Linked DNA regions of Homo sapiens. The protein of the gene in region 2 interacts with the protein of the main gene of each other region in a biochemical or structural test. Each region holds a gene or a part of one and is shown on either strand. Other genes may lie near its edges. The genes, in order: TOLLIP and WRNIP1.

What was found.
Region 1: the proteins of WRNIP1 (region 2) and TOLLIP form a complex in vitro, tested with the Homo sapiens proteins (one study listed by BioGRID).

What each region holds. Positions count from the first base shown.
Region 1 is NC_000011.10:1,303,119-1,306,932, reverse strand, and holds part of TOLLIP (toll-interacting protein), read left to right. Parts: intron 1-3,814. UniProt on the Homo sapiens protein: Component of the signaling pathway of IL-1 and Toll-like receptors. Inhibits cell activation by microbial products. Recruits IRAK1 to the IL-1 receptor complex. Inhibits IRAK1 phosphorylation and kinase activity.
Region 2 is NC_000006.12:2,784,731-2,787,574, forward strand, and holds the end of WRNIP1 (ATPase WRNIP1), read left to right. Parts: intron 1-276; coding exon 277-552; 3' UTR 553-2,222; downstream 2,223-2,844. UniProt on the Homo sapiens protein: Functions as a modulator of initiation or reinitiation events during DNA polymerase delta-mediated DNA synthesis. In the presence of ATP, stimulation of DNA polymerase delta-mediated DNA synthesis is decreased.

The DNA.
Region 1 (3,814 bases), on a different chromosome or scaffold from region 2:
GAGGACGTGACATCTCTCGGAGGAGGAATGGGAGTAGGGGTTGGGCTGGGAGGGCAGGGCACGGAAAGAGAGGTGTGGGGTCTGGAGGTGGAGAGGAGGGAGCCCCAGGGGCCGAGGATGGAGGGAGGCAGGAGCTGGAGGCCGCCGGAGGGTCCTGGGCACAGGAGGACTGGACTTGCCCTGGAGTTTACCGGCTCAGCGCAGCACTCTGTAAAGTGTTGCCTGGCACACGCAAGGCAGGGCCCGCCTTGGCACCAGCCTGCTTCGCTGAGCATGACCCACCCCAGCCCCTCTGAATTAACCCATAGTGGGCCTTTACCCAGTTACTAGCACCTAGAGGAGCCCTGCTTTTGCAGGATGTCTTGACACAGTATTTATCATGTCCTCTTTCTGTTACACCTGTGGTGCCAGAGAGGCAGGAGGTTAAGCAGGGCGCTCGCTCAGCTTTCCAGCAGAAAGAGATGCTCCCCAGGGTCCGGGGGCAGGACTCTGGCTCGGGAGACCCTGACTGTGGTCTAGCCGTTGCCTCCCCCTAGTGATAAGGGGAGACGGCAAGATCCCATGGGCCGTGAAGGAGCAGAGGGGCCGCTAATGGGGTCCTGGGAGGGTTCTTTTGTCCTTGGGTAGAGGGAGCTTCAGGGGCCCGGGTGGGTAGGTGTGGAGAGGACGTGTGAAGCTAGCCAGCCCGACATCGTTCTGAGAGAATCATACCGTGTTTAGATCTTCAGGATAATGGTTCCCTGAATAGCCACTAAGGGATGCTTCAGCCCTGTGCAGTGCTTCCCTCACGTTTCAAAAAGGCCAGTATTTTGGAAAGATAACCTTTTTTCAATATAGTCTGCATATTATCAGAAAGCATGGGTGAGTACCTGCAAGGAGTACCATGTGGACCCCTGCGAGGGGTACCGTGGGGGCCCCTGCGAGGGGTACTGTGTGGACCCCTGTGAGGAGTATCATGGGGGCCCCTGCGAGGGGTACCGTGCGGGCCCCCGCGAGGAGTATCGAGGAGTACCGTGTGGACCCCTGCCTTCTGCAGTGAGATCTCGGGACGTTTGCGGGAGACTCCGCTGCAGCCACCGCGGTGCCGTCAGAGAGGCCTCCTTGGTAGAGGTGGGTGCGCTGTGCCGTGTCCAGGCTGCTCTGACTCCTTGTCCTGCTTCTGGAGGTGCTGGTTGGCCATGGAGTCCAGCTGGAGGCGGCCTGGCCCCTCCCTTCCTCCCTGAGAGGCCTGTTCCTGTCCAGGTCCCCTCACTCTTCACATCGTTGATAATTCCTGCCGAATCGGTGACTTCATTAGGGATGGCAGAGGGTAGTTTCTGAACTTTATCACTTCTTCGGTGTTTATTAACTGGGATTGTTTGTAAAGATTAGCTTTCCCCATCAACCGGTGTCGGCTGGCTGTCCTGAAACACAATTCGTGAAAGAAAGGCAAGTGAGATGCTTTTCCCTCATCTTCCCGTACCTCAAGGAGAGAGTTGCTTTTCTTTGTAGATGTGTGTGGGCTTTCTCTCCCCTGAGTGTTGTGAAGAGCCCGTGGATTTTCCTGCATCCTGTGTGTCTGAGCCAGTGGCACTTACCCGTCTCCGCTGGCTCTGGTGGGCTGCTCCTGGGAGGGCGTCCGTTCCTGCTGACTGCACCTGAGCCAGCGGGGAACGCACTCACCGCCTCCTCACGAGTCCTTTCTCTCTGGGTTCCTGTGAACCTTTGCGCTGGATTTTTTAGGCCGGGTTGTGAGTCTGTACAGGTGTGGAATTGCTGTGCTTGCCTGGAAATCACATCTTTTCACTGTGTGGGGACCCACGGGCCTCTTGGAAGATAAAGGCCTCTTGCCTTTGATTATTTTGTCTGATACTGGCATGGCCACCCCAGCTGTCTTTTAGAGAGTATTCACCTAGTACTTTTTCCTTCTATGATTTTACATTTTTCTGAAAACTTTTGTTTAAGACACGTGCACCATCGATAGCACGTAGCTGGATTTTTAAAAAGTCAAATCTAAGAAGACTAAGTCTTTTGATGGGAATGCGCTAGTTTCATCTTTCTAGTTAAGAGATGCCTAGATGGATACACAGATTTACAGATTTTTTACATGTTTTCTTTGGTGCTTTTATTTGTCCTACATTTTCTTATTTTTTTTCTCTCATTGCCTTTTGAATTTATTAAATGGAGTTTTAAAAAATTCAGTTGTTTTATCTCAAGTACATACACACTGTGCTGGGAAAGTACAGGGGCTCCCCTGGAAATGGTAACATGCACTTATCAGCTTCTGCCATGAGGGAGTCTCTGAGTGAACTCTGGCTCCGGAGGCTGCCCGGCTAAAGAATAAATAAAGAAGAAGTTAATCATTGTCTGTGCCACCTCCGGATCCACGCGGAGACCTCGGCCGCCCCGTCCTGGCGCGGGTGCTGCTGTGCCTTGTGTGGGTGCTACCTCCCCTTGGGGCTCCCGCAGGAATGTGTTACTTCTCTCGAGTCAGCGCTTGTTTAGATTTCCTTCTGTGTTTCTCTTTTCTTATCCCTTCTGGTGTCTCGGGCCTTCCATTTGGGGTCACTTTCCTTTAGCTTCAGGTTCATCTAGAATTTTCCTTGCTGGCAAACTTGATTTTTGCTTGTACATGCCTTTTCTCTGTGTCCTGACAGCTATTTTTGTGTGTGTGGAACTCCAGGTGGGCGGTACTCCAGGTGGACAGTACTCCCGGTGGACGGTCACTTGTCCTCAGTGCCTCGAAGGTGGGACCCCGCCCTCTCCTGGCTCCTGGAGTGGCTGCTGAGCAGCCCGGGAGTGGATGTCCCTTCCTCCGGCTTTCCTTCGTTTTTGGCCCTCTGTTTGCTGCCTTCTGAATACGCTGCTTCTGGCCTGCCTCCCAGTTCACTTGAGGTCTTTTTTTTTTTTTTTTTTTTTACATGGAGGCTCGCTCTGTAGCCCAGGCTGGAGTGCAGTGGCACAATCTCAACTCACTGCAACCTCTTCCTCCCAGGTTCAAGCGATTTTCCTGCCTCAGACTCCCGAGTAGCTGGGATTACAGGCGTCCACCACCACGCCCAGCTAATTTTTGTATTTTTAGTAGAGATGGGGTTTCACCATGTTGGCCAGGCTGTTCTCGAACTCCTGGTCTCAAGTGATCCGCCCACCTCAGCCTCCCAAAGTTTTGGGATTACAGGCGTGAGCCACTGCACCCGGCCCTAACCTCTGTTCATCTGGGCCTCTAACACTGTCCCTTGACCTGCCCGACAGGCCCCTGGTTAGGCCTGCTGTGCAAGTGTTTCCTGTCCCTGAGTCACTGTCTCCAGATCCTGCGGGCCCTGCCCTGGCACCGTGCTGGTGAGGCCTGCCTTGCTGCCCTGTGGGAAGTGCAGCGTGCCCCTGCCACCCGGCCTTGCCCTGTTTCTTTGCACAGCGCCTCCTGCCGTTAGCATACAGCATAACTCATGATGCTTCCCGTTTGTCTTCTTCCACTCACGTGTAAGCATCCCAGGAGCAGGGGTGCCCCAGCACCTCACCATGGAAGCCTCAGGCACACAGTGACACGCAGAGGCTGCCGCAGCGCGCGCCCTGTGCCCGGCGCCCAGGGCCTGCCACGTCACATGCCGTCCCTCTCTGGATCTCTGTCCGCCCTTGGCCTGCTGCTTGACTGGCTTTTGTTTCATCTGAATGAGAAGGGGTTTTCCGCCTCTGCCTTGCTTGACCGTCCCAGCACTTAGGATGCAAGGCTGCCTGCAGTGGAGTTCCTGGCAGAGACCCCATTTAAAGTCGCTTGTTCTGTAGTCAGCTTTTATAATCTATGCTTATTCTCATTCTGTCCTGTACTCTTCCCTTT
Region 2 (2,844 bases):
TATATATTGGGGGCTTAAGAAAAATTTAATGTAGTAAAAAGTCCTTCAGTTAAAAAAAAAAATGAAAACCACTCACCTGGTTTGCCTCTCGTTTCACCTCATGAGAATTTCTTCTGTCTGTCGTAGGTGGTTATCCAGACTGTAGGCGCAAAAGGGGGATAATAAAAGCATGTGGGGATCTTCTCAGAATTACCTAGAGCTGTGTATCAGAAGGGGCTCTGCAGAACAGAAGCTTGGCATCTTGCTAGTAAAATGTGTCCTCTGTGTCATTGGTAGGTGCTTCTGGCCCAGTGTGTGGTCTACTTTGCCAGAGCCCCAAAGTCCATTGAGGTGTACAGCGCCTACAACAACGTCAAAGCCTGCCTGAGGAACCACCAGGGGCCACTGCCCCCCGTGCCCCTGCACCTGAGGAACGCGCCCACTAGGCTGATGAAGGATTTGGGCTATGGCAAAGGCTACAAGTACAACCCCATGTACAGCGAGCCTGTGGATCAGGAGTACCTGCCTGAAGAGTTGAGGGGGGTAGATTTCTTCAAGCAGAGGAGGTGCTGACTCCTCAGGGCACGACAGCAGAAGGATGTTGCTTTTTTAAGGGAGGGCCAGAAAGAAAGTTAGTGGATTGCAAAGTTGGTTGCCTGGTGGAAGTTAGAACAGACCAACATTTTGTGCCAGAAATTTAAGAGTTCCATAGGTGGAGGCGCAGTTCTTTCGAATAAATGTGTAACTTTGAAATTGTGTTCATTTGCACTCGGTGCAGCGGTTATGCTTATGAAAATACCTGGCAGCTTTGTGCAATGAATTAATGTTATAAGGAATTATCTATTTTGTCATAGTATTTAAGTCATAATGTCATTTCAGAATTCAGTTCTGTAGGATTTTCTTTTCTTTAAAAAATGTATATTCTGGGTAGTTTTAATTGGTAAAAAAATGTAATTGTGATTTAATACTGCATAGTGTTTTGGGTATTTTTTTTATATGCAAAGGTCTTACGAGCCAATAAAACTATTTCAAAGTACTCTTCGATTCTGTCATGGTTTTCCTGCCTGGATGCTAGGTACCAGCGTTGTCACCATTGCATTTGGTGGGTGGATACTGGGAAGGAGAAATCACCCCAGATGGGAAGAGTGGGGAGCTTAAGTTAAGAAGTCAGTGTTATCTTGTTGAAAGTTAACTCTGATCTCTTTAAAGGAATACATAAAGGAATTCTTTAAATGGCTTGTGGAAGACTCCAGTAGTCCCATGCCCATTTTTTCCCACTTGTCCTGGTTTCTTCTTGCAGCTCCATATTTCTAAACAGTCGTTTTTCTTTTACTTTATGTGTGTCCTGAACACAAAATACGCCACTCCTTCTGCTCAGTTAAGAGTTATTTGTCCCTACTGCTACTTCCTCTCCCTCTCCTTAGTTGCATGTCGTGCATATGCCCACAAGGATGGCCCCTTCAGGTAGTCGGTTCTCCTCCTGCTGTTGCGTGATCCCTCCTGGGGTCCTCCTGCCATGTCTGGAAGGCTGCCGGCTGTTGGCCTGGGACGTCCTCTGCCTTTATTCTGAGTGAGATGCCCATTTTCTGGATGCTCCATCCCGCCTTACTGGTTTATTCCGCTATTTCAGTGCAACCCATCCTCTAGTAGTTTTATCAGGCTGGAGGGACTGTATGTTGCAGAGGCTTGGCCCGACTGGCCTCCCTCCTTCTGTCTGGAGTGGTTGCACTGCAGTGTGCAGTTGCCATCCCCAGAATCTCCCTTCATCATCACCCTGGAGCTTTCCTCTGCTTCTCCCTGCACCCCATCTGATGACAGGACTGACTGCTTTCTGGCACAGGTGGCATGTACCCTCTAGTAGCTTTATGGAGCAGGGGTGTGTGGAGGAAAAGTATTTTTAGACCTCAGGAGACTCAAAATGCTTTTATTGTACCTTCAGACGTGTCTGAGGGTTTGGCTAGTAATAAATTGTAGGTAAGAAATTACTTGTGCATTGTTTTACACTTTCCCACATTGTTGTCAAGTTTGAAGGCATCCTGATGTGTGTGGTCTTTTGTTTGTAACCTCTATCAACTTGTAGACTCTTCTGTCTTTGCTCCCCGTGTTTTAAAAGTCTGCACTGGGTACTTGTTGGGCCTTTCAATCTGGAAACTCCTTTCAGTTCTAGGGAAGTTTCTTTTTTTATTCAATAAATTTATTTATTTATGAGACCAACTCTTGCTCTTTTTCCCAGGCTGGAGGGCAATGATGCGATCTCGGCTCACTGCAACCTCCACCTCCCAGGTTCAAGCGATTCTCCTGCCTCAGCCTCCCAAGTAGTTGGGATTACAGGCGCACACCACCACACAAGGCTAATTTTTGTATTTTTAGTAGAGACGGGGGTTTCACCATGTTGGTCAGGCTGGTCTCGAACTCCTGACCTCGGGTGATCCACCCACCTCAGCCTCCCAAAGTGCTGGGATGACAGGCGTGAGCCACCGCGCCCGGCCTCAATAAATATTGAGTGCCTGTTTTATGCTGAGCATTCTTGTTGATGTTAAAACACATCAGTGAGCAGAAGAGACCAAAAATTCTGTGTTCTTAAAGCCTATGGTATGAAAAATAATATGTTAATATGCCAAATAGTGATAAGTGCTATGCTAAGGAGAAAATGAATGAAAGATTGAATATGGAAAGGGGAGGTATGGGTGCAGTTTTAGTAGAGTAGCCAAGGTGGATCTCACCAAGAAAGTGTTTGAGTCAAGACTTCAAGGAAGTGAATGTGCCTTTCAGACACCCGGGAAAGGATCATCCCAGGCAGAGGGAAAAGCAAGTGCAAAGGCGCCGAGGGAGGATGGAAGGCTGGGTGGGTTCAGCATCCAGTAA